3 separate regions of the Homo sapiens genome follow, and regions 2 and 3 are each reported to be linked to region 1. The links are microRNA targets in miRTarBase. Many come from high-throughput screens and were not tested one by one. Region 1 holds a microRNA gene; each other region holds the end of a gene's coding sequence.

Evidence for each region. The annotated mature microRNA hsa-miR-193b-3p reads AACUGGCCCUCAAAGUCCCGCU and lies in region 1 at 962-983, shown strand. An mRNA with a match to its seed (bases 2 to 7 or 8) in the 3' UTR can be bound and repressed. Matches are read on the target gene's strand: a 7mer-m8 pairs with bases 2 to 8, a 7mer-A1 pairs with bases 2 to 7 and ends in A, and an 8mer does both.
Region 2: the mRNA of C2CD2 is a reported target of hsa-miR-193b-3p. Seed matches in the 3' UTR shown: 7mer-A1 at 1,593-1,599.
Region 3: miRTarBase lists RNF146 as a target of hsa-miR-193b-3p. Seed matches in the 3' UTR shown: 7mer-m8 at 631-637 and 7mer-A1 at 866-872.

Annotation. Positions count from the first base shown.
Region 1 is chr16:14,303,056-14,306,408 of GRCh38, forward strand. MIR193B (microRNA 193b) reads left to right here and starts at 912; the gene lies at 912-994. All of the region lies in intron 1 of MIR193BHG (MIR193b-365a host gene), which reads left to right. RefSeq lists silencers at 1-49, 1,003-1,052.
Region 2 is chr21:41,886,451-41,889,803 of GRCh38, reverse strand. It overlaps C2CD2 (C2 calcium dependent domain containing 2), which reads left to right. Exons shown (of 14, transcript NM_015500.2): 14 at 460-3,353. The coding sequence ends at 680. Among named protein-coding and RNA genes, the nearest start is that of PRDM15, 8.8 kb to the right of the region's middle.
Region 3 is chr6:127,287,344-127,290,343 of GRCh38, forward strand. It overlaps RNF146 (ring finger protein 146), which reads left to right. Exons shown (of 3, transcript NM_001242850.2): 3 at 1-1,219. The coding sequence ends at 350. It overlaps ECHDC1 (ethylmalonyl-CoA decarboxylase 1), which reads right to left. Exons shown (of 6, transcript NM_001002030.2): 6 at 1,369-2,934. The coding sequence ends at 2,526. Among named protein-coding and RNA genes, the nearest start is that of RNF146, 22 kb to the left of the region's middle.

The sequences.
Region 1 (3,353 bases):
GACTAGCCGGGAACCACCGTCCCCAGAGAGTTACCGCCGCCCCCTAAAGTTGTCAGCTCCCTCCCCCCGAGAAGCAGGCAGCCCTGGCGCGTTGGCTTTAGCTTCTGCAGGACGGGGGCAAAAAAACTAGGTTCCGGGGTGCGGAGCGGGGTGTCTGTGCCCGAGACAACACCAAGTTAGGAAAAAGAAGTTAGAAAAAAAAAGAAAAAGGCATTTTGATTTGGGGGTGGGGGGAGTGGCGTTTCTGGTTTCTCTTTGCTTCCAATCCCCACCAAGCGGAGCGTTGGAATGCGCCGCTTATGTCCTCTGAGGACACATCCATATTTATAATTTATTTTTAGGAGAAGTTGTGAAAAAGGGAGGGGGGTTAAAATGAGGAGAAAAGGTGCGTGGGGGAGTGGCCTTTCCAGAACCTAGAGGCTAATTAAGCTATTAAAATGGAAATCATTTCCCCCAACTTGGGCGCGCAGCAAATTTGACTTTAATGAGAGACGATTAAGGACACAAATAACCAAACTTTATTTAGCTGGAGATGGGGTGGGGGGAACTGTACGAGGCACCTCGGACACCCGATTTATCCGCTGCTAAGGGACGTTTGGGGCACCCCTCGTGTTGTCCGGGAAGCTTTTAGGCCTGTTTGCTGGGCGAGATTGGTGATTGCTCCGGGAGGGAAGAGACACCCCGGGATCAAGCGATCCTCTTGCCCTCAGCCATGGTGTGGCAAATGTCCCCTCCTCCCACAGCGACCCCCTGGCATTTTGGTGAGATGAACCGCCGCCCTGAGGGAACACCCAGTAACGATTCCTTCAGTGATCCCGGTTCTCCAAACTCTTGCCTCAAAGGCGGCCTGCCCCGGTGCTGTCAGCCGTGAATGGGGACTCACTTCTTGGGAAAAGAGGCTTTTGGAGGCTGTGGTCTCAGAATCGGGGTTTTGAGGGCGAGATGAGTTTATGTTTTATCCAACTGGCCCTCAAAGTCCCGCTTTTGGGGTCATTCTGGACAGCGAGGGACTCAGGCCCCGGCAGTCTCGGGAGGGTGAGGGCAGAGAGCTACCACCCCCAGGGAGCGCGTCCAAAACCCGGCTGGCGGGGGGGCGGGGAAAGAGGGGGAGGTTTGCTACTTTCCATAAAACTAAAAGGTCCCTTCGAGGGCGGTATTCTTATAAGTGTGTGTTCTCAGTTTGCCGAACCTACTGTGTTTTCCAAGGGCTTCTCTCCTTGGGAGGCCGAAAAACGATACAAGGAGGAGAAAGTACATTCCCCCTGACCACCCCCACAGTGGTTTAAGGGACAGTATTGGATTGGAAAGGAATTAGTAGGATGTCAATTGTGGCAAAGTGTTTGAAGCCCCCAAATAAGGCGCTCCTGAAATGATGAATTGTAACGACATTAGATTTGTCTTTACGTTTGCTAAATTAGGAGAAACCAGCTGTTTGCTTCCACCTGGAATTGCAACATTTCTTTGCAACTCTTTGCTGTTGAAGGCGTTCTTTTTGTTCTGTTTTGTTTTGTTTGTTTGTTTGTTTGTTTTTTGGGGACAGAATCTCGCTCTGTCCAGGCTCTGACCAGGCTGGAGTGCAGTGGCGCGATCTTGGCTCACTGCAACCTCTGCTTCCCGGGTTCAGGCGATTCTCCTGCCTCAGCCTCCCGAGTAGCTGGGATTACAGGCGCCCGCCACCACGCCCGGCTAATTTTTTTGTATTTTTAGTAGAGACGGGGTTTCACCGTGTTAGCCAGGATGGTCTCGATCTCCTGACCTCGTGATCCGCCCACCTCAGCCTCCCAAAGTGCTGGGATTACAGGCATGAGCCACTGCACCCAGCCAGGCGTTTTATAGAAGGCTGGATAATACGTTCAGGGGAAGTCTCTAAAGCAAGGGTAGTGTGTATAAATCCCCGTCGCAGAACATTAACCTTCAGTTGTGTGTACACACACACACACACACACCCTATATAGTTGTAACCTATATAGACTTTCACACATCCTAAGTTATTTGCAAGTCTAGATTTAAATTAAGTCTACATAGCAGGGAATAGAAAAGTGAGCTGTACCTGGAAAAAACCTTTGAACACAGCGTTCTTGATACAAGATTTAGGATTTGAAAGACATGGCACATGTACACACAGATGACATTTGTGCTGCCTTGGCAAAAACAGTTCTTTACTTCCAGAGTTCTTTCTCTTTAGTATGGGACACGATGAAACAGCACAATTTTCAGGAGTCCACAATTCCAGCGAGGCGCGTGGATGGGAAATTGTCACGTTGTGAATTGTGTTTGTGCTTTGCTAAATCGCCACCCGGAGCTGACTGTCAAATCCTATTTGCTTTGCTAAATAAGGATATCTCATCAAATTAGCCTTTAATGATACTTCTACAAATAGGGTGTTTTACATGAATTAACGAGGCCGGAACACTGACTGTTTCTCCAAGATACTGAGCTATAATGGAGGCGACGAAGCCGAATGTTAAAATTACTGAATTGTTAAGTGTGCAAAATCAGACAGAATTTAGTGCTAAATGTGAAACAATTTCTGCTTTAATGGTGAGCATTCGCAACAGCACAAGCATTACTTATATTCAGCCGTCTGAAACTGTGCATGTAATTATGAATACATTTAACAAACTTTAACCCCCCTCTGAGTCTGGAAACAGTCTAGTATGGTGAAGAGATTATAAATCAGCATTTTGCAGTGAGAAGTCATCATTAATTCAGCAAAGAATCACAGCTTCTTTTCAGATCCTTCCCACCACCCTCCTACACACCCCCCTCAACCAATAAGGAAAAAAAAAATTCAGCATGGAACTGCTGGATACACTGAATATATTTTGGCTTTTCTCTTTTTGCCTCTGTGTGAGAAACTTCATTAAGCAGTTGCTGTTCCCTCCCCACCCCCGCTAACCCCCAAAGAAGTGTGGATTTAAGAAAAAAAAAAACAAAAAACAAGCAACTTTGAATTTTGTTCTTAGCAATCCCCAAGCCATAGCTGATCTCAGAGAGGCAAAAAAGATGTTTCAATAGAAAAGAATACGGTATGGCCAGGAGTAAAATATTTAGAGGTGGTTCTGCAATGAATATGATACTTCCTTAAAAATAAAATATATGTTGGTGATTCAAACCAATGAAAGTTGGAAAAGTCCCTCCAAGGGAACACTCTCTCTGTTTCCCTTCCCAGCAACCCCCCAACTTAACGTTATGAACAGAAAGATGGAAATTCTTGCCAGATCAACTATAGCCTCCTAACGATCAGCTCACCCTCCTTTAATTTTGATTGTGGAGCAAATACAGCTATTTTAGCCATGAGGATAAAAATGAGTGCAGTGAAAAGTTAAGGCAAACTTGGTACTTAAAATCAC
Region 2 (3,353 bases), not on the chromosome of region 1:
AAAATTAGCTAGGCATGGTGGCACACACCTGTAATCCCAGCTATTTGGGAGGCTGAGGCAGGAGAATCGCTTGAACCTGGAGGTGGAGGTTGCAGTGAGCCAAGATCGCGCCACTGCAGTCCAGCCTGGGCGACAGACAGCAAGACTCTGTCTCAAAAAAAAAAAAGAAAAAAAATTCAGGAATATAAATATCGGCCTTAGAAAGGGATATCAAGCGATAGTTCAGGCTTACTGCTTCTACTGTTATAATCTCGTTTCCTTTTCATCTTGAAAACTCTCGTTTTGTACAAGCCAGATTCCAGTTATTTTTCTCATGCAGGTAGTGACAGCATATTGAAGTAGTAAACTGGCCCTTCGTTAGAGGCATTCGAGCCTCCTTTTCCCTTTGTCCGATTGGACCAGTCATTCAGCCCCTCATTCCCTGCCCACTTGACCAGCCCTTGTGCCTCCCTCTTCCAGGAGGAATTCTAAGGAAAGGTGCAAAGCTGTTCTTCCGCCGGCGGCATCAACAGAAAGACCCAGGCATGAGTCAGTCACACAATGACCTTGTGTTCCTGGAGCAGCCAGAGGGTTCCCGGAGGAAAGGCATCACCCTCACCAGGATCCTGAACAAGAAGCTGCTCTCCAGGCACAGAAACAAGAACACCATGAACGGTGCCCCCGTGGAGCCCTGCACGTAGGGCCTGAGGTCATCACCTCCAAGCCAGAAGACGTGCACCCATGTTAACTACCCTCACCAGGACGCAGCCAGTGTGTCCGCCGGATGTCCAGATGCCCCGCTTGTCTTGCTGGGTTTCTTCCAACCATCTCGTCATTTAAAGGGAAAACAAAATCTGAGTCTCCAGCCAGGAGGCTTCTCCCAGAGAGGACAAAAAAGCCCAACTTGCCACCAGATGCTAAATGAGACTTGACAGCTGCAGAGCTTGGGCTGTGCTCATAGCTAAGGGTTAGGGTTCAATATTAGAAGGAGATTAACATTATAAGTGAAATAATATGCTCTAATAGATTGTGGAGGGCAGGTTTGAGGGACTTAGTTTACCTATTCTACACTAACAAGTGTTGTTTTGGGTCCATGCCTGGACCATGTCACAAAAAGGAGGTGCCCCCCTGTGCTGTCACTGTGAATGGAAAGGATGGGTCACCTCTCTTCATCTGCTGCTTGGAATAAAAAATGCAGCTGGCCCTGAGTACAGGGAAGTGGAACATAGGCAGGATTTTGGATTAATAGAGAAATTTTGATAAGAATGGAGACGCTACGACAGATGTAGGAAGTCATCTACCTTTGATATTAGCCATAGAACTTGAACACTAACTATATCCTATGCATAGTATGCAGAACACTTTTCTAAGTTTACTTTGAGCCTACTTGCAAGTGGAAGATATATATATTCTCACATGGTTTTTACATTTTTCTCTATCGTGTTAAAAGCTCTAATAATGCTAGTGGAGCAGTTGACATCCAGGGTTTTTTTTCCTGCCTGTCATACTTGCTAAACAAGAGCACAGCGGGCCTGTCAGATGAAGTCAGGAGCCATACGTGACCGCTCGTAGAACACAGTAACCAAACACATACATGGATTTTGCCAAGTGCTGCCAGTAGCCAAAACAAAGTCTTTTTAGGGCAATAGAGGAAATTATTTTGTGTCTCAGGTGTCAGTCTTAGGAATGGAAGTTTAATAACAAATGGGCCAAACTCGCAGGACATTCCTTCTATGAGCGCTTCAGAATTTTGCTGTGAACAGTCCTCTTGGACACAGGTTGGGGTGCCCTTGTTTGGGTTTGTTTTGGTGGAAAACATCACAAACCTGGCACACCATTTGAATATCCCTAATATCATTCCAGTCGCTTTCCTCATCAGTTGCCTTTCTATTTCAGTTCATTCACAGATCTCACTTCTGAATGTGCCACTTCCAGTAGACATGCTGGTCAAAGAGCAGTCATCATTGGGGTGAAGTGTTCTTGACAGTTTAATATGATTCACTTTTCTCCAAAGACATGTAAAAGGCTGTTACGAAAGCTTGGCTTCTGTCATGGAGACGGAAATGGGCAAGCTTCCTTCCGTAGCCTCTTGTTAATCCTTAAACATTAAATATTTCGGGGGTAATAGAGCCACTGGTGAGTAAAAACCTATATAAAAACCAAAATTATAGGATTTTTTCTTTTTTAGTAAAAACCGGTATCAAAACCAAAATTATAGGATTTTTTTCTTTTTTAGTAAAAACCTATATAAAAACCAAAATTATAGGATTTTTTCTTTTTTAGTAAAAACCTATATGAAAACCAAAATTATAGGATTTTTTTCTTTTTTAGTAAAAACCTGTATAAAAACCAAAATTATAGGATTTTTTTTTCTTCTTTTTTAGAGAGAGAGATTAGAAAACGACATTAGGAATTTCACTTTAAAATGCGCATTACAAACTTCTTAGGTGTTCCAGGAATTATCAAGTGACTTTAAAATGACTTTTCCAACCTGCTTTGTTTTTAAAAATTATATTCCAGTTTTAATCATTGTAAAAAAAGCACCTGGAGTTTCAAAACATGTGAATACTACCAAGTTTCTGTCCCCAAAGTCAGGCATCACTGTTAGTCTTTTGGGACAGATGGGACAGATGTTCACTTTAATGTTTTACTTGAAGTTTTACTGCTCTTTGCCATGTGGTAAAAAGAGGCTGAGACATATTTAAGAATTCCAAGAGGATATTATGTGTCAGAATTTCAGACACTGATGAGAAGTTTTTAATTGTTCTTTTTTATTTGATTTTGGAATTCAGGTGCACTCTATTCAAGTGCAAGGATATCAGAAGTTTTTTTTTATTTAAAAAATTTTTTTTTCGAGATGGAGTTTCACTCTGTTGCCCAGGCTGGAGTGCAATGGCAGCTTACTGCAACCTCCACCTCCTGGTTCAAGCGATTCTCCTGCCTCAGCCTCCCAAGTAGCTGGGATTACAGGCACGCGCCACCACACCTGGCTAATTCTATTTAGTAGAAATGGAGTCTCACCATGTTGGTCAGGCTGGTCTCGAACTCCTGACCTCAGGTGATCCACCCACCTTGGCCTCCCAGCGTGCTGGGATTATAGGCATGAGCCACCAGGCCGGCCCCAGGATTTTATATTAAGCCTTCTTGCTCTCAAAAAAAAAAAAAGGTTTTAACTATTCCATTTCCAGATGAATCCCATGAGCGCTGCTTACTGTTGAATACCAAGGTCTAGGGCTCTGCTTCCTGTAGACACGCACACGTTGTCTCCATCCAATGGCCTTTTCTGAAGTTACAGAAAACACCAACATGGGAGGGAGTTTATGAAGCAAAGGCAAAGGCAACACGTCGGCTAGCTTCAGGGTAGCACCGTGAGA
Region 3 (3,000 bases), not on the chromosome of region 1:
AAGACTCTTTTGCTCATTTACAACTCAGTGGAGACAACACAGCTGAAAGGAGTCATAGGGGAGAAGGAGAAGAAGATCATGAATCACCATCTTCAGGCAGGGTACCAGCACCAGACACCTCCATTGAAGAAACTGAATCAGATGCCAGTAGTGATAGTGAGGATGTATCTGCAGTTGTTGCACAGCACTCCTTGACCCAACAGAGACTTTTGGTTTCTAATGCAAACCAGACAGTACCCGATCGATCAGATCGATCGGGAACTGATCGATCAGTAGCAGGGGGTGGAACAGTGAGTGTCAGTGTCAGATCTAGAAGGCCTGATGGACAGTGCACAGTAACTGAAGTTTAAATAAAAATGTCTTCAGCTCCATGCTCAAGGTTGAAAGGGTTACCTGTAAATTTCTGCCCACATAACATTATACTCATCCCTAGTAGTGCATTTTGGGAGTTGGGGTGGGAAGGGGTATGGGAAGGATAGACTCATAATTAAAATGTCTAACATGTCTCTGTTGAGAAATTTATTTAATGTAAGGAACTTGGGTGTTAATAGTTGAGAGCTGTTTAGTAATAACCCAGTTTTCTTGAGGTCTGTTTACTTTATACTTTTTAAAAACTTCTGTAGTTCTTTTGGCCAGTGTGTTTGTATTATCTGTGCATTAATGGTCCTCATCTGACTCCTGCATTGTGTCTTATTTTTCTGCATGGATTGGCATAAGACCATTACTAAAATTTGGCACCTGTGAGATGTTTGATATTATGAACAGGAAACATAATTTAATGTATGAATAGATGTGAATTTGGGATTTCAAAATAGATGAATAACAACTATTTTATAGTAAAGTTATTGAAATGGAAATGAAAACAGCCAGTAACTTATGTTTCAGAATGTTTGTAACACACTTCATGGTGTTCCCATAGGCTTTGCTGTCTAGTCTTATAGTTTGAGGTTTTTTTGGTCTGCATTTTTCTTTTTGATTACAAAATTTATAATTTAATAAATACTAGAGTTTATCAAAAACAGTTTGTCTCTTGTTTGAGGGTGGAAAGGGTGTGGAAACATTTTGACATTTGTGACCAAAGGTCACTTAAAAAGTGGTGGTTTTAATTGGTTGTTTTCAGCTTAATCACCTGCTCAGAAAAGTTTGATTTTTTTCTTAGAGATTATTTAAACAGAATCTATAGGCAGTGTGTATATAATAAACATGTATGGAAATAAAACTAAAGCCTGTGAGACTTAAAATTCCTCAAATAGCATATACCGTTAATATTTTATATTTTCCTTACCATATTCATTAGTAGTCTAACACTCTGGATTAAATGGCAGACTTAACGGTGTTAGCAGACATGAATTCACTTTACACAAAATGTTGTAGACCACAAAATCCACTTTTATTTGGTAGTTTTTACATCTATGGCCAAATAGTATTGGGTTGACACAGTAATCTAGAGTTTACCTCTGAAAAAAAGTAATGTGAGTCTGTCTAACCATATTTTCCTAACTCAACAGTAGGATCATGATGGTAAGGCAAATGCAAGTTATTTTTACCATGATTCTCAAATGTGAATTGAATGTTACAGTAGCAAATACTTTTGACCTCTTGTGATGAGTCAGAACTAGAACTTAATTCTTTGACTTTCACATTTTTTAAAAAGTGTATTGCTGGGATCATAAACATTTTATGTTGTGCATTTTTATTACATTTACTTTTGAAAGATAGTTGTTAGAAGGTTAGTTGTTTTTCAGGAAAAAAAAGAAATCTGATGTAAAAATGCAAATTTATGTTGCAGGATGCTTCATGAGTCCCTTCAAGTGGTTTAAAACTACATCAACAGTAGTTGTTTATTACTAGTTGGAAATTCCAGGGCACACAAATGAATGTCCAATTGTAGAATCAGTTGACTTTCCATGTCATGGCTACCACTGTTTAGTAGGTAATTTACAATAGAAAACTAATTATTGAAAAGAACAAAGTTCCAAATTTGTAGTGGGTAGTGAGGTACATCTTTTTTTAAATGAAGGGCCATTTCCCATGAATTTTACTCCAGCTGTTTGGAGCAGAAGAAAATGATTGATCATACCCTTTCTTGTTTTCTTGTTCCCTGATACCTCCCCACTTTTGTTCTTTAGCAGCAACACTCAGTTATTTTGGTAAATTATTTCCAGGTAAAACAGAACAAAAATTGTATGAAAAGTAACGCCAGGAATAGGTTTTGTATAGAAGCTCTCCTTTTAAACACTGCTCTTTGGTTATAAGCTAAGAATTATTATTGGAATTGACAGCAATAATTTTTAAGCCAAAAGTGTATATTTTAGCTAAATGTTCCAGATTACGCAGTAAATACCCAAGTGAGTAATTGGCAAGAAATGAGGTAAATGAGTTCAGATATTCAAATGATTAAAAGTAAGTCTGCATATTAATAGTAGCCTTCAAAGTAATTCTGATGTTCATATTTAATATCATTTAACATTTATACATATTAGTCACTGGAGCTTTACTTGGAGTACATCCACACGAAAAACCAATTATTTATTAAATTTTCCTTTCTTAGCAATAGCCTCTAAATTTGCAGGCCCACCCCAAACTGTTCCTAAAAGATCTCTTTCGTTCTGTAATGCTTCCTCCAAATATAGCTCTCTGCCTGAACAAACAGATTTTTTCAAAGCTCTAATTACTTCCGGTGGCCCTTGGATGAATTGCTTTAGCCATTCTTGTGCCTCTTCTAGAGATTTAGTTTCATCTGAAGACTGCAAGACCTCTTCAACCATTCCTATGTTTAGAGCATTTTTTGAATCCAGTTTAAGGGCCCCACTCAACACTTTGAGAGCTTGTCTACTTCCGATTATTTCAACTAGCCGGGTGGTGCCACCCCAGCTTGGTATTATGCCCATCTCTTTGTGGACGAATCTGATCTTACTCTCTGGAGTCATTAACCTGTAAAAGAAAAAAGAAAAGCTTAATTGTAACTCTCTCTGTATGCTCTAATCATAAAGTACTATC